Regions from separate parts of the Homo sapiens genome. Here region 2 is linked to region 1. A link means that fine-mapping ties the variant in region 1 to the expression of a gene that starts in the linked region. Tissue or cell type: whole blood. Region 1 holds a variant in brackets; the other region holds the start of a gene. All regions are shown on one strand. Distances are between the middles of the regions.

Region 1 (8,103 bases):
TTGTGGGTACCATTAGAGAAGGGACCTTAACCTGGCAAACATCTCCTCCACCCTGGGGAAGCTTTCCACCTGGCCAGGAAAAAGACACACGTGGATAAAGAAGTCACAGACGTGCCAACTACTCAGCGAGGCCAGGGAGCCAGGAGCATCATGGAGATAAGCCAGCCGCCCGGAGAAGAGCTGCTCCACACACTAGCACTGGCCACAACCAAGCTAGGGCCAAGTCACATAGCCCACAAGACACAATGTCCTGTGTTCAGAAACAGTTCCAGAGAGATACCAAACTTTCTTTGGCATTTCTTCAGAAACGCTTGTGCCTCTCCCTCTCCTCCTACTCCTCACCATTGTACTCAGCCTCGCTCTTTCCACCTCCCGCCCACAACCTCCATCACCCGCAGCTGTTTGTGATGTGAATCAGCAGCCCCAGTTATTTCTCCTTTACCCGTCACCCGGACTCTCTATCCACAGAACAAAAGCAGCAGGCTCACCTGGGAGCTTGTTAGAAATGAAACTCCAGGACCCCACTGAAGACCTATGGAATCTGAAACTTGGAGGGCGGGCCCAGTCATCTGTGTAACCAGGCCCCCAGGGGATTCAGATGCACACTCGAGCCACTGCTTTACCTCAAAGGAGAGCCTGGGAGCTGGTCCACAAGGAGATTCCTCCCACCCTTTCTCCTCCACCTCTCCTGTGTTGTCTCTTCTGCCCATTTTCCAGATTGGGCATTATAGAAATCTGCAAAATAAGATGACCAAGACCGAACTTGTAGACAGTGATGAATGCCAAGGGGCAATCCTCTTTGAAGGAAGGGGGGAACCCTCATACACCAAGAAATCTTGTCTTTTTTTTTTTTTTTGAGACAGAGTCTCGCTTTGTCGCCCAGGTTGGAGTACAGTGGTGCAATCATGGCTCACTGCAACCTCTGCCTCCCAGGTTCAAGCAATTCTCATGCCTCAGCCTCCCAAGTAGCTGGGATTACAGGCACCCGCCACCACACCAGGGTAATTTTTGTATTTTTAGTAGAGACGGAGTTTCACCATGTTGGCCAGGCTGGTCTCAAACCCCTGACCTCAGGCAATCCACCTGCCTCAGCCTCCCAAAGTGCTGGGATTATAGCATGAGCCACCACACCCGGCCTTCTTGTCTCTTTTATGCCATGCATATTTGGCCTCTCCACCACAAGTTAGGCAAGGAAATAAAACTGGGCCTCAGGAGCCTCACACGGAGCCCAGGCATTCTGAAGCTCTTCCTCACTTTTCTACAGCAGATGTCCAGGATTCAGAGGCAAATCGCTGCTTTCTAGGAGTCTCTACCCACAGCTACAGAACTCCACCTTGAACAGGGGTCAGTGTGTTGTTCCTGCTCCTTGCTGAAGCTACTAATAGGATCACACGAGGCTGAGTCCATTGGACTGGCTCAAGTCAAAAGGAAAGAGGGACCTCCGTTCCTCCATCCAGGTGGGATGGATTCACGTGTCACCCCAGGGGCAGGAAGCAGCACTCCCTCCCCATCCGGGGACTATGACCATGTCACACGGGAGGGCGGTACATCTTTGGTTCTTAGGTTGACTTTCTACCTTGTTCCTCTGGAGCCTGGGCTCCTGGTGGGGTAAGGACAAGAAAGGCCAGGAGGCTATGGTAACTCGGACTACTTATGTCTGGGTCAGCTACTCTGCACTTTAAAGGGCAAGTTGCACACCTGTTGTGAGCAATACCTTTGTTCTTCCTGTCTTCAGTGCCTTCCGCATGCATCATCTCACATGCCGGACAGGCCTGGTGTTACCCCCGTTTTACAGGCGAAGGAACTGAGGCTCCTATAGGTTGTCTTTCTCAGTCAAAGCACAGTCCATGATAGGCATCTCCTGGGAACTTGATAGAAATGGACTCTTCGCCGGGCATGGTGGCTCACACCTGTAATCCCAGCCCTTTGGGAGGCCAAGGCAGGTGTATCACGAGGTCAGGAATTCAAGACCAGCCTGGCCAAGATGGTGAAACCCCATCCCTACTAAAACTACAAAAATTAGCCGGGCGTGGTGGCAGGCACCTGTAATCCCAGCTACTTGGTAGCCTGAGGCAGGAGAATCGCTTGAACCCGGGCAGCAGAGGTTGCAGTGAGCTGAGCTCGCGCCACTGCACTCCAGCCTGGGTGACAGAGTGAGACTCCATCAAAAAAAAAAAAGAAAGAAAGAAAAGAAAAAAAATGGACTCTTCAGCCCCACTCTGACCTGCTGAATCAGAATCTGCATTTTAGCAAGATCCCCAGGTATACTGAGAAGCACTGGGCTGGGATCTACCTGAGGTCTGGGAGCAGTCCAAGATTCTTCTTTTTAACAGTGATGTCATACTTTGGGTGGTAAGGACCTAAGAGATTAGTAGCAAAAGGCCTACTTTCTTGCTTGAGCCCCTGCTTGCTAGCTTGAGGACTCTGTTAAACCATACTTATTTTGCTTTTAGCTACCCAGAAGGAGAGGAGGTGGCCGTCTGTGTTCTCCAAACTTCTGGGACTCCTCAAGGAGTGAAGTCTGATCTACGCACGGAACCAACCACCACGGCAAAGGAAGAGCGATGGCGCCCCCATGTGGCAACACAAGCACTGCGATTTCACACAAGACCAAATCAGAATTGGCCGGAGGGGAACGTCAGATTCTTAGGGAGTGTTACTCCAACTAATGCTACACTCAGGGCGACTTCTTGGAAGGCAAAAGCCCCATAGTCTAGCCATACAACTTTCCAGAAAAGTAGCACTCTTCAAAACAGCTGGCATTAAAATTCTTGGCTCTGCCATCCACCCGTTCTGTGAGACTCTTTCCTCATCCCCAAAAATGGAAGGTCTGATGACTTCAAAAAGAGTTTTACCGTTTTTCCCCTCATTGAAAATAATAGAAAACAGTAAAATACTGCATTTCTGCCTTCAAGTATTCACTGAGCGCCTTCTCCATTCCCTGCTTCTTGCCGGGCTGCACGGAGGCAGCTGTAACCCAGGCAGAGTCCCTCCTTCAGTTGTGGGATGTAGAAGACAAGGACAGGACCAGTCACAGAGGAAAGACCTTCACTCATGCTGCGGCCTCCTTTACCACTGCATGGGCCCTTTCAACTTTCCTAACCCAGACAGCTCACCGGCTCCTCATGGCAGCCTTACAC[G/A]GGTCCTACAAAGCTCCCCACTGGCACTCCTGAAAGGTACCCTATAACTGGAACCATCCTTTTGTGGAATATATACTGACCCAGCTCATCCTTAGAAATCCTTTGCTGGGATTTACATCCTGGAAGCTGGGCCACTGACTGGTCTTCCAAGACCATCTGTTTCCAGCTTTCTCTTCTGCAAGCATTAGCTGAGTCTAATTTAAATAATAGATATTTTAAAATACATTTTAAAGTTCATGTAGAAAAAAAAATGGGAGACCTCCAGTATGTGGTGAGTAAAGGTCTGCTTACTTGTGATAAAGTACTTGCAGTGCTTTCTCTCCCTCAACTGATCCAGGACTCCAAATCTAATAGTCCATCTCGCCCTTGAAGGATGTAAACCCAGACACACTAGTGAACAGGCCCGATAAAAACACAGCTTTCTGTAGTCTTTTCTGTGTTGTGTTTGAAGCTGGCGAATGCCACTTACGAAGGGAGAGTAAAGAGTCTCTACTCACCCTGTCCTAATGACGTGTGCTGAAACTGGAGGAATAAGGTCAGGATTAGCCTGGCACTTGCCCATGGATATTGAGCAAATCTGGAAAGCATTCTGTATTTTTTTAAATACTCTGAGGTCTTTCCTTCCCTGATCCTCCAGAAATTTACACCCTCCTTTATCTTTCCAGATGTGTTGCTTGTACCTCAACTTGGCCATTTTCCCTATTTGCCTCCTAGACTGATGCTTAAGAAGTCACCTCTTTAGTTTCTACACTTCTTGCAATATCTGCTCAAAATAGCAGTTCACAAAAACAGTGGCATTCCAGGTTAGAGGGTCATGGCCCAGGGCTGCCCCAGCCAAAGCCAAGTACATCCAAGGAATGTACTGGCAACTCCAAGATTCCCAATGGTCTCAAGTAAGTGGTGGGAACCATCCCCATTTACACACAGGACACTGCCCAACCTCCTTTCTCGCAGACTGATGCCTCATTTCAGAGGCCAAGCTTCTTTTTTTTTTTTTTTTTTTGCTTTTTTTTTTTTATTTTTTTTTTTTATTTTTTTTTTTTTAATTTATTTTTTTATTGATAATTCTTGGGTGTTTCTCACAGAGGGGGATTTGGCAGGGTCATGGGACAATAGTGGAGGGAAGGTCAGCAGATAAACAAGTGAACAAAGGTCTCTGGTTTTCCTAGGCAGAGGACCCTGCGGCCTTCCGCAGTGTTTGTGTCCCTGATTACTTGAGATTAGGGATTGGTGATGACTCTTAACGAGCATGCTGCCTTCAAGCATCTGTTTAACAAAGCACATCTTGCACCGCCCTTAATCCATTTAACCCTGAGTGGACACAGCACATGTTTCAGAGAGCACAGGGTTGGGGGTAAGGTCACAGATCAACAGGATCCCAAGGCAGAGGAATTTTTCTTAGTGCAGAACAAAATGAAAAGTCTCCCATGTCTGCTTCTTTCTACACAGACACGGCAACCATCCGATTTCTCAATCTTTTCCCCACCTTTCCCGCCTTTCTATTCCACAAAGCCGCCATTGTCATCCTGGCCCGTTCTCAATGAGCTGTTGGGCACACCTCCCAGACGGGGTGGTGGCCGGGCAGAGGGGCTCCTCACTTCCCAGTAGGGGCGGCCGGGCAGAGGCGCCCCTCACCTCCCGGACAGGGCGGCTGGCTGGGCGGGGGGGCTGACCCCCCCACCTCCCTCCCGGACGGGGCGGCTGGCCGGGCAGAGGGGCTCCTCACTTCCCAGTAGGGGCGGCCGGGCAGAGGCGCCCCTCACCTCCCGGACAGGGCGGCTGGCTGGGCGGGGGGGCTGACCCCCCCACCTCCCTCCCGGACGGGGCGGCTGGCCGGGCAGAGGGGCTCCTCACTTCCCAGTAGGGGCGGCCGGGCAGAGGCGCCCCTCACCTCCCGGACAGGGCAGCTGGCTGGGCGGGGGGGCTGACCCCCCCCACCTCCCTCCCGGACGGGGCGGCTGGCCGGGCGGGGGGCCGACCCCCCCACCTCCCTCCCGGACGGGGCGGCTGAGGCCAAGCTTCTTGACCAAGTACTCAGCACCTGCAGCCTCACCTCAAGCCCCTTCACCCCACCCAGCTCCCACCCTACTGAAGCATCTAACCCTGCTGGCCACTGCCACATCTCACATCTCTAGCTCCCTTCCTCCCAACATGCTTTATGCATCATAACTCCTCTCTGGCAGTTCCTTCTTTCAAAGCTTTTACTTCCTCTTCCTAACACATCTCAACACAAGCCTTCATCCCGTCAATGAGGAACACGACTCCAGCCCCAAAAGCTTCCATCCACACCCACCTGGAGCTTCGATGTCTCAACCCCACCCAGGAAAACTTCTCAATCTAAACTCCCACCACATCTCCAATGACTCAAGACTAGAAGCTCCACATGTACAATCATATCCCGTATTCTAGGTTTGAAACCTTGGAGCCATTCTTCTTAAAACACACTTCTAGTTTTCTTAACATTATAAAATTCCTAAATGCTTTTATTAGTGACAGGAGGCGGTGGGGGGTAGGGGCTTGTCTCCCCATGTTGCCCAGGCTGGTCTTGAACTCCTGGACCCAAGAGATCCTCCCACTTTGGCTGGGATTACAGGCATGAGCCACCATGCCTGGCCCTAAATGCTTATTGTAGCAAACTCTGAAAACAGAAACAAGCAAAAATAAACAATCACCCACAATCCCACCCTAAAAACCACTTCATCTGGGAAAATCCTTCTGGCTTTTTTATTGCAAACCCATTTAATGTTCTTTCAAAACATGAGAGGCTATGTAGTTTTATAACCTACATTGTGTGTGTAAAAATGTAGGCCAGGCATGGTGGCTCACACCTGTAATCCTGGCACTTTGGGAGGCCAAGGTGGGCAGATCACAAGGTCAGGAGTTCGAGACCAGCCTGGCCAATACAGTGAAACCCTGTCTCTACTAAAAATACAAAAATTAGCAGTGCGTGGTGGCGCACGCCTCCAGTCCGTTACTCGGGAGGCTGAGGCAGAAGAATCACTTGAACCCGGGAGGCAGAGGTTGCAGTAAACCAAGATCCCGCCACTGCACTGCAGCCTGGGTGACAAAGCGAGACTCCATCTCAAAAAAAAAAAAAAAAAATACACACCTTTCTGTTAAAGCCACTTAAAATTATTGAAATAGATCAAGTGTACATGAGTACACTATCAAGTCAGATCAAAAAACAAGCATCACCAAGCCTCACATCATGTTGTCACTACTCCACAAAGAGTAACTACTATCCCAACTTCTAAAGCATGGTTTTCAGCTGGAACCATGCTTACATCTTCCCTCTTCCTGCAGGTACCAAAACCAGCAATTTTCCCCTTCATTTGGCTGTCCCCTCAAAGGTGGACTAAGTCCCACTACCTCCAACAACCCCCAGGCCCCCTGTGCCCCTGCAAAGCAGCTCCCACTGCCCCACAACAGAACCCTGATCTCTCAGGCCCCCACCTTTTAAGGAGACAGGGTATCACTTTATCACCCAGGCTGGAGTTGCAATAGCACAATCTCAGTTCACTGCAGCTTTGACCACCTGGGCTCAAGTGATCCTCCTGCCTCAGCCCCCCAAGTATCTGGAATCACAGGTGCACACCACCACACCCAGCTATCTCAGCTCTTTCTACCACATCTAACAATTCCCCTACAGAAACCACTTACATGCTCAGGAGGAAACCAAACCTACTAGACACACGTTTCTCAGACACGTGGCTACAATAGGCCCTGGGTAGGCCCTGGCAGGTAAGCTGCTCCTACAGCCAGAGGACTAGGACTGTGCAAGGGGCATGACCCAGGGAACAAGACCCCTGACCCCTCCTCGTCTAGACCCATGCCTTATCCAGTTAAGGTCTTTTTCACTGGCTTAGTGCCCTTTAAACACCCATCACCACCACATACATACACCAACACACATTCCACGCAGCCACACCACACATCCAGTGGCGCCAACTATTCTAGCACACTCTGGACCGCGCTGTTCTTTGGCCAGGTGTAAGTCCTAGCACTTACCTTTATGCCATAACCCCCGCCTTCTGCTAACAAAACCCTCAAAGTAAGGCCCAGTCACAGGAGCAAGACAAGGATTCCTAACACCAAAGGAACTGGGCCAAGACTCAACTGGAGAGTTTGAGTACAGAAAAATTAGGCAACATTTTCTCACAAAGTAGGCAGTGTGCTTCAGCTGTCACTCTTCAGACTGGAAGTCTTCAACGGATGTTAAGTGAAATTTAGCTCAGAGGGTTCCTACTCCTAGAGAACATTTTTATTGAAAACACACCCCCCGCCCCCACCCCACACACACATACACACAGACACACACACATACACACACACCCCCACACACACACCCAGCAGCCTTCATTATGGAATTAAGGAAACCATTCAAGTTTAAGACAGGTTTATTTTATTAGTTTTTCCTAAACTTGTCTCATGTTTACTGAATGATTTTCTTAGTGTAAGAACGTGACCTGGAGCTTTAACAAATCAGTTTGGATAACGCAACCTGGATAAATGCTTGTCTGTACACAAGCCATCAATTACCACTCTCTGTCCTGGCCTCCATGAAAATCCAATTGGTCTTAAAGCCTGTCTAAGCAGAGAGCAAGCAGACCACATCATCGTGTTTCAACTTGAAATTCACCCCCATCCCAGCACCCACACCCTTCCCCACACACACACACACACACACCAAAAAAAAAAAAAAAAAAAAAAAAAAAAAAAAAAAAAATTTTTTTTTTTTTAAGAAGAAATGGCCATTACGGTCTGGGCCAGTTGTAAAGGGTTGGCTTAATCCTGCAGCCAGCACTTTTAAAATAGCTACTGGCTTCACAGCAGGCCAGCTGGAACTCTTGAAGCATGACAGGTAGAGAACAGAGGATGTGCTAAGAACCTGGCCTTGTTGTGGTGCCTCGAGGCCTCCATGCATGCTTACACACCAACATAAGTATACTTTCCCCTTCCTCCT
Region 2 (8,101 bases), 57 kb after region 1:
TTTACTGAATCCCAGGCATTATTCTGAGCACTATGGCAAAAAAAAAGGTATAAGTTATAGTTTTAACTCATTATAATTCTCATAATCTCCAATGAAGTAGAGAAATCACATCTGTTCCTACTGCAAATTAATCTGTTATATTTGTGTAAAGAATTCTGGCAATATTACTGAAACTTTAAGTATATACAGTATATCCCTTACCCTAGCAAATTCACCTCTGGAAATCTATACAATAAAAATAAAAGCATTAACATTACAACATAAATATGTAAGGCTACTTATTGAAGAACTATTTGTAACAGCAAAAAGTTAGAAATAACCTGTTTGAAGAAAACGTGTTAGAGCCATAATAAAGAATTTTACAGGCCGGGCGCGGTGGCTCACGCCTGTATTCCCAGCACTTTGGGAGGTCAAGGCGGGCGGATCACTTGAGACCAGGAGTTTGAGACCATCCTGGCCAACATGGCGAAACCACGTCTACCTAAAAATACAAAAATTAGCCGCATGTATGCACATGACCGCAACAATGCACTCCAGCCTGGGTGACAGAGCCAGACTCCGTGTCAAAAAATAATCTTCCCACTGCACCTAGGTAAAAATCATTATTATTATTTACAAGGCTCTGCCTAATTCCTCAGATTCATCTCACAGCATTCTCTCAAGCAGCTGAAAGAGTCGTGGCTGCTCTTCAATGTATCAAGGATGCAGCTCTTCTTGCTCAGGTCTTTCCCACTTGCTGTTCCTTCTGCCTGGAACAACTCTTCCTCAAACCTACTGTGACCTCCAAGGTAAAATCCTACTCATCCTCAGGTCTCAGATGGTACTTCTTTCAAAGCACCTTCTACCCAACTTATTTTTGAGACAGAGTCTCGCTCTGTCACCTAGGTTGGAGTGCAGTGCATGATCTCGGTTCACTGCAACCTCCACCTACCAGGTTCAAGCGATTCTTCTGCCTCAGCCTCCAGAGTAGCTGGGACCACAGGCGCCCGCCACCACACCCAGCTAATTTTTGTATTTTTAGTAGAGACAGGGTTCCAGCATGTTGGCCAGGCTGGTTGCGAACTCCTGACCTCAAGCGATCCTCCTACCTCAGCCTCCCAGAGTGCTGGGATTACAGGCATGAGCTATCGTGCCAGGTCCTTCCATCCAATTTAAATTAGACCCGCTTATTCTATACTCTCACTGTATTCTGTACTTTTCCACCTTGCCCTTTACCACAGTTAGTAATTACTACATATTTTTGTTTAGTATTTGGTTTAATCCACCAGCCATGTCCATAATGGCATGACCTTATTTGTTCACCACAGTACCTCCAGTGCTTAGAAAAATGGCTACCACATCAGAGGCACTCAACATCTGATAAAATGAAGGAAGCCTAAATTGGGTGGAAAATCAAGGGTCTCTTCTGGATGAGACTCCACTGGCTCCTCAAAAACCTAATCCAGATTGTTACACCCATATCTGAAACGAGGTACTTCCACCATCATAAACCCTCTAAGACTTGCATCTCATTTCCACTCTCATGTTAAAACAAACCCACAACATGCAGTCTTTTTTACATATGAGCTCCAAATCCATTCCTCCATAACCGCTACCAAAAAAAAAAAAAAAAAAAAAAAAAAAAAAATCAACCTTCCTGCTACCATTTTCTATTTAGCCCAAGACTCCAAAACAGAGTAATCAAAGTGAATCAAAATCATACAGTTCAGAAATCACTTGAAATGTATGGCATGCCTGTAAGTTAATGAAAACTATGAAGGAAAATATAAAGAAAACATGTAAGGAAAATTATTTAAATGGAATTTTCTTATCACAATTCCGTGGTGTATGGGGTCATATATATCACAATGTCTTTGAGGCAAATTTTTTATCTGCAACAACTCAGTTTCAAATAGAATTCATGGTATAATTGTTGTAGCTATTGTCTTTCTAAAAGAAAAACAGGAGCATGTGATAATAATCTAAAAGAAAGGATAGGAACACTGTTCTTCCCCATACTTGGGATTCTCTTCCTGTGCGCCCTTTGGAACTAAAGCGTGTTCAATCACAGGGCAGGAAAGGACCAAAACACTAAATACATTAACTCAGCGCTTTAGCCTTTTCAGTTCCTTAGGGGAGACATTTTATAGACCAAGAAAACACGGATACAAAGATATTCTCAAATACTAAAATGCTTAAAAACAAACTTTAATGCTTAAAAAAAAACTTCAGGGCACAATACACTTCCCTGGAGATGCCAAGTTAGACTACCCATTGTTAAAAAGTACAAATAGGGAAAATAAACTGCTAAAGGGCACAGGGCTTTGGGGGAGTGATAAAAATGTTCTAAAATTGATTACAGTAATGGTTGCACTGTTTTGTGACTACACTAAAAACGATCACTTCATCTGGTTAAATTGTATAGTATATGAATTAAACCTTAATAAAGCTGTGCCAGGTGCGGTGGCTCACTCCTGTAAACCCAGCACTTTGGAAAGCCGAGGCAGGCAGATCACTTGAGGTCAAGAGTTCGAGCCCACCCTGGCCAACATGGTGAAACCCTGTCTCTACTAAAAAAGACAAAAATTAGCCAGGCGTGGTGGCGCACACCTGTAATCCCAGCTACTCGGGAGGCTGACGCAGGAGAATCGCTTGAACCCAGGAGGCGGAGGCTGCAGTGAGCCGAGATTACGCCACTGCACTCCAGCGTAGGGAACAGAGTAAGACTCCTTTTCTCAAAATAAATAAATAAATAAATAAACCTTAATAGGGCTGTTAACAAGACTAAACTCAGCAAAGGGACAGCAAACTACCGTTTTGGCTTCTGGGATGAGTTTTCAGGGGAAGCACCTGGGTTAGGAGGTGGGGGGTGCGGAAATTTGACAAGTGGAAAGGAAATGTGAGACTTCTGAACAATCTAGTTTCGCTGAAACCTGCTGAAGAAATGTGACAAAAATTGAGGGTGAAAATAATGGACCTTAGAATTGAGCCCCTGGGGCCGGGCACCGTGACTCACGCCTGTAATCCTAGCACTTTGGGAGGCCGAGGCGGGAGGATCACTTGAGGTCAGGAGTTCGAGACCAGCCTGGGCAACTCGACAACACCCCGTCTCTACTAAAAATACAAAATTTAGCCGGGCATGGTAGCACGCGCCTGTAATCCCAGCTCCTCAGGAGACTGAGGCAGGAGAATCGCATGAACCCCAGAGGCCGAGGTTGCAATGAGCCGAGAGCATGCCACTGCACTCCAGCCTGGGGCGACAGAGCGAGACTCCATCTCAATCAATCAATAACAAGTGAGCCCCTGGGCAGGGCACGGTGGTTCATGCCTGTAAGCCCAGTACTCCAGAAGGCCGAGGCTGGAGGACTGCTTGAGTCCAGAAGTTCGAGACCATCCTGAGTGACATAGTGAAACCCGATTTCTACTAAAAATAAATAAAATTAGCCAAGCATGGTGGCGCACGCCTGCAACGCCAGCTACTCAGGAGGCTGAGGTGGGAGAATCACCTGAGCCAGGAGCCAGGGAGGTCGAGGCTGCAGTGAACCAAGATCGCACCACTGCACTCCAGCCTGGGCAGCCAGAGTGAGACCCTGTCTGTCTCAAAAAAGAAAAAAAAAAAAAAAAAAAGAAGAGAGACCCTGAATGGCAAATAATACAGAACTTCTTACAAGATTTTGTCTAAGAACACGACAACGGATTAAAATGTATCTACAAGTATTCAAAAGGCAGACACTGTAACCAGTGAAAGACCTGAGTGACCCACCATTTTTTAGAACTGTGTCTATGCTGGTCCCAAAACTTACTATGGGTTCTAGAAGTCAAGGCGGGCCCTTGAGCCACTAACAATTGTGGCCAACACACTGGTTAGAATGCATTATCGTTAAAGTGCAACCCTATTGAGGGGTTAACGCGCACAAAACAGAGAGTGACCCAATATAGCACAATATCCCGAAATAATGTGGAAAACAAAAGCGATTGCAAAGTTATCATAAGAGCACCGATTTTATTAAATTCCTATCCGTGCCAACCCAATCTCAAGACCCCGAGTCCATCCGGAACCCGTGCCTGAGGCTGCTCCAGCTCGCTCTCTTCCGGGCGCTGCCCCGCCCCCACTCACGTGGGACGCTGACCGCTCCACGGTCTCGCGGCTGGCAAGCCCCAGAACCCGTTCGATTCAACTATTATTAAGCGCCTGCTGTGTGCAAAGTTCTGAGCTTTCTGTTGGACTCAAAAGACTCAGTACGACCTGGGCCTGGTCTCTGCCCTCAAGAAAAGGACCGCGATCCGTTTACATCCTAGGCCTGCAGTCCTTCCAGTTCCTACCCGTGCCCTCCGCTGGTCCGAGTACCGGCCAGAAGCCTTTCTTCGGCCGACGGGCCACCGGGGAAAAGGCCCTCGCGCTTAGCACACACCCACGCTCATAGTGGGCCGCGGCCCCTAGTGTCCTAATACCTACTGGGGGTCCCTGACCTACCGGGACCTCGGCTCGGAACGGAGGCGACTCCTCGGCCCGCGTTCCCCAAGCAGCGAGGGTCCCAGACTGGAACAAGCATTATCTCCTAACCCCAGTGCACGCGGCAGGCCCGGCCCACACTTACGGCGTGCAGCGGTCGCTATACTCATTAGCGATAGTCTCGATGCCGCCGGCGCGGGCCACAGCGACGTAGCAGCTCTGGAAGCCCAGGTCTATGCCCACCACCGACATGGCGCCGGCTACTGCTCGGGCTCGGGCCCGGGTCCGGCCACCGAGACAGGACACGGACCCCCGGCGGGGCTAGCGAGTGGAAAGCAGGCCTCTTGGGCCGAGGCTACTGAGGGGCTTGCGGTGTCCACGCGAGCGCCTAAGTCCTTCCAGTGGGTACTGCAACCGAGAGCGCTGCTCAGGCCGGCTCCGGCTCAGTGGCCGCAGAGGAGGCGCCGGTAGCGGGGGCGGAGAAGATCTCGAAAGATCTCGTTGCGACGAGAGCGGAGCCGCAGCACCAGAGCTACGAAAGAACGGGATGTTCTCGCGATATCCCGGCTCAGGCGCTTTTCCCCTTGAGGCCCCGCCCCCAGTACGTCTGAATACGTCACGTCCTGGCTCGAGAACCTGGGAAAGGACTGGGTGGCTGAAAGATGGCTGGAAAGCGCATTTAGCCAACCGAGCCTGCGCATGGAACCTGCGGCGCTGCACAGCTGCATAGAGATGTGGAGCACCTCCCTTTACCGTAGAAAGTAGGCGAGCCAGCTCGAGGCACTATACTGAGGAAGCGCTGCGGCCTACTTCCGCCGTTTTTCTTAACATCAAAGAAACTTCCGGTAGTGGGGTGTCTTGCATTCCACCGTGTCGGTGCCCCAGAATGAGACGCAAGCTGATCTGCAGATCCCGCAGGGTGCCTTCTGCTCTTTTCGGGGCAGGTTGGCCGGTAGGGGAGAAGGCCGCCATTGGAACGCGGCCTTTATGTCGGGTTCTCTCAAGAGTCTAAGATCGCACCCTCACCAGCGGAGGGAAGGAGCCCACTCCCAGCCACACCGCTTTGTTTTCTTTCGCTTAGCCTTGTTGCGCCGTTCTCTAAGCCACTCATGTCCTTAGATCAGATTGAGGGGCCCGCAGGATTTAAGCCTTTAATCCACAGCACATTCCAAGCACCTACCCGGTGGTAGGCCCTAACAAGGAACACAGGCAAGTGACACGCTGCCTGGCCTGAAAGGTCCGCTCAGACCTTTACATGAAGTTAATAAATGTTAAGCTTCAGGGCCCCTCGCTTGTATGGCCTCCTGGGAGAATAGATAGTTGCTGAGTTGTGGAGAGGGGAAGCCAGCTTGAGATTAGGAAGCAAATCTATGTAAGCATTTCTAATAAATTACCCAGAGAGATCTAAGGAGAATCTGAATCTCCAAGTCTCTAGTAATGTGTTGTGATTTGTCGTTTTAATTATTTGTTTTGTGTATTTGTAGGGCCCCCCAATGGTATATAAGTTTCACCTCTGCAAAACCTGGATCATCCCCATCATGAGGGTGGCTAAACAAGTAAAGGTGACCCCAGTACAGAATGGCGAGTGCTATATGCACAGAATGGTGGAGACTAGGACAACTTCCCAGAAAAGGAAAAGGCTGTGTTCAAGTTTGGAAAACTAGCAATAGAGACCATAGTTTAAGGACTAAAAAGAAATTCTCCGTTGCTGGAGGGTACATCATGAGTTGAAGGTCTCAAGGCTAGAGTACCTGCCCTTCAGCCATTTTAAAAGTGAATGAGCAAAGAAGAAATTACATTGCCCTGGTATGCCCTTCCCTTTAAATACCTGCATTTCCTGCCACCTCCGGAGGTACTTCACTCTATAGGAGCAACCCCAAACCCGGGTTGATTACCATTAAAACTTGCAAATGGCCACACTGTTCTCACATTTTGCCTAACTAAAACCTGTTAATTCTTCAAAGACAAGTACCAGGTGCTACCTGTAAAAGGGTACTGGGAATAAAAAGAGTAGAGGCAGCCAGGAACAGCCTTTGGAAAAACGAGAGCAGGGACATATTTGTACATTGTATACCCATGTTCATAGTAGTTTATTCACGGTAGCTAAAAGGAGGAAACAATCCACATGTCCATTGACAGATGAATGAGTTTTCTAAATTTAGTGTATACGCGTAACAGTACATTATACAGCTTTGAAAAGACAAAGGAATGAAAGTCTGATAAATGCTACAGCATGAATGAACCTTGAAAATACGCTAAGTGGAAAGCCAAACAAATCAAAATTAATTTTTTTTAATTTTTAATTTTATATTCAAAATTTAATATGATTCCACTTGTATCAGGCACCTACAATAAACTACATAAAGACAGAAAAGCGGTTTCACAAGTAGAGTGAAATGGAGAGTTAAGGGATACAGAGTTTCAGTTTGGGAAGATGAGAAAGTTCTGGAGATAGATGCTGGTGGTAGTTGCATAACAATGTGCATGATCAGTGACAGATTTGTACATTTAAAAATGATGAAAATGGTAAATTTTATGTATATTTCACCACAATTTTTTAAAGTTTTTTTAAGTTAGGTTGACCTTGACCTTCCTTCCTCTGTTTTTCTCCTACCTAGGGGCAATATCAATAATACCAAGCACACTGTTGACCTTAATTATGACAGAGTCCTGTCTCCATCTGTTTATCTCAGTTGTTAATCACTGAGCAAACAACCCGAGCTGCCTAAGCTAAAGTGTCCAGTGGACCTAAAAGATCACTGTCTGTGTTACTGCCTGTTTCTGCCTTCCTTCTATTGGAAGACCTCCCTAGGTCTTAGCTAAGTTGATGAAAATTACACCCATATCTTATTATGTTCCAACTTCATACCTCAACTGCCTTGTTTGCCTTGGTACTGCTTTCAGTTTAAAATACCACCAGCCCTATCAATCTTTTTAATGATTTGTCCTTCTCAAAATAAAACATAACTACCATCAGTCACAGAGAGTACTCATCCTCCTATAAATAGTTTCCTGGATCATCAAACTTATAGCTTAAGAGATTATTCTGGGATATTTAAATAAATGAAGTCAGGAAAAGGTTATTTTAGAATCCTGAAGAATCTAACGTGGCAAGTTTCCAAGTATCACAGTTGCGAACCAACGAAGTGTCCAGAATATTTAATGTTGGAGGCACTGTGTTCGGAGAACAAATTCTTTCCATTTGGCAGAGTATCTTAGGTATTTAAGTATTTTAAAAGCAGGAAGTTGTTAAATGCCACTCTCAAATACAACGATTAAATTTAGTCCTAAGCAATCACAGAAGTGTTTGTTTTTAAATATACAGTGTTCATAGGCTGCCCAACAAAAGACAAAAGGTTCTCCATCAGCTGGGGACTCATATTTCTCCCTGACAAGTGTCCAGTGGAATCCTGCCCTACGCTCTGGAGCAGCTTCTGCAATTTTTTGCTTCACAAGGAAACTACCTGCTCAGATAATGGTGATTTTCTGACTTCCCTGATCTTACAGTGAGTGGAGCAATGCTTTTAGTCAAAGCAACAACCCTTTCTTAAACACCAAAACTCCAATAACTCAATAATAATGGTAATTACCATGTCTCTGGCATTCCTACAGCATATGCTAGCATTACGCCAGACACTGTATTGATACCAATATAATTCCTTTACTCGT

Evidence for each region. PIP is the estimated chance that this variant, and not a neighbour inherited with it, causes the effect.
Region 2: it holds the start of HSPA4, and the variant in region 1 is fine-mapped to the expression of HSPA4 in whole blood (INTERVAL, PIP above 0.99).

Annotation. Positions count from the first base shown.
Region 1 is chr5:133,105,866-133,113,968 of GRCh38, reverse strand. HSPA4 (heat shock protein family A (Hsp70) member 4) reads right to left here. Exons shown (of 19, transcript NM_002154.4): 19 at 7,520-8,103. LOC105379178 (a long non-coding RNA gene) reads left to right here. Exons shown (of 3, transcript XR_948792.2): 3 at 2,454-2,901. Among named protein-coding and RNA genes, the nearest start is that of HSPA4, 58 kb to the right of the region's middle. RefSeq lists an enhancer at 5,403-5,452. The variant G/A (reference allele first, on the strand shown) is at 3,141.
Region 2 is chr5:133,048,834-133,056,934 of GRCh38, reverse strand. HSPA4 (heat shock protein family A (Hsp70) member 4) reads right to left here and starts at 4,922. Exons shown (of 19, transcript NM_002154.4): 1 at 4,578-4,922. The coding sequence starts at 4,684. RefSeq lists enhancers at 2,746-3,708, 4,947-5,126, 5,317-5,366, 5,437-5,486, 4,673-5,635.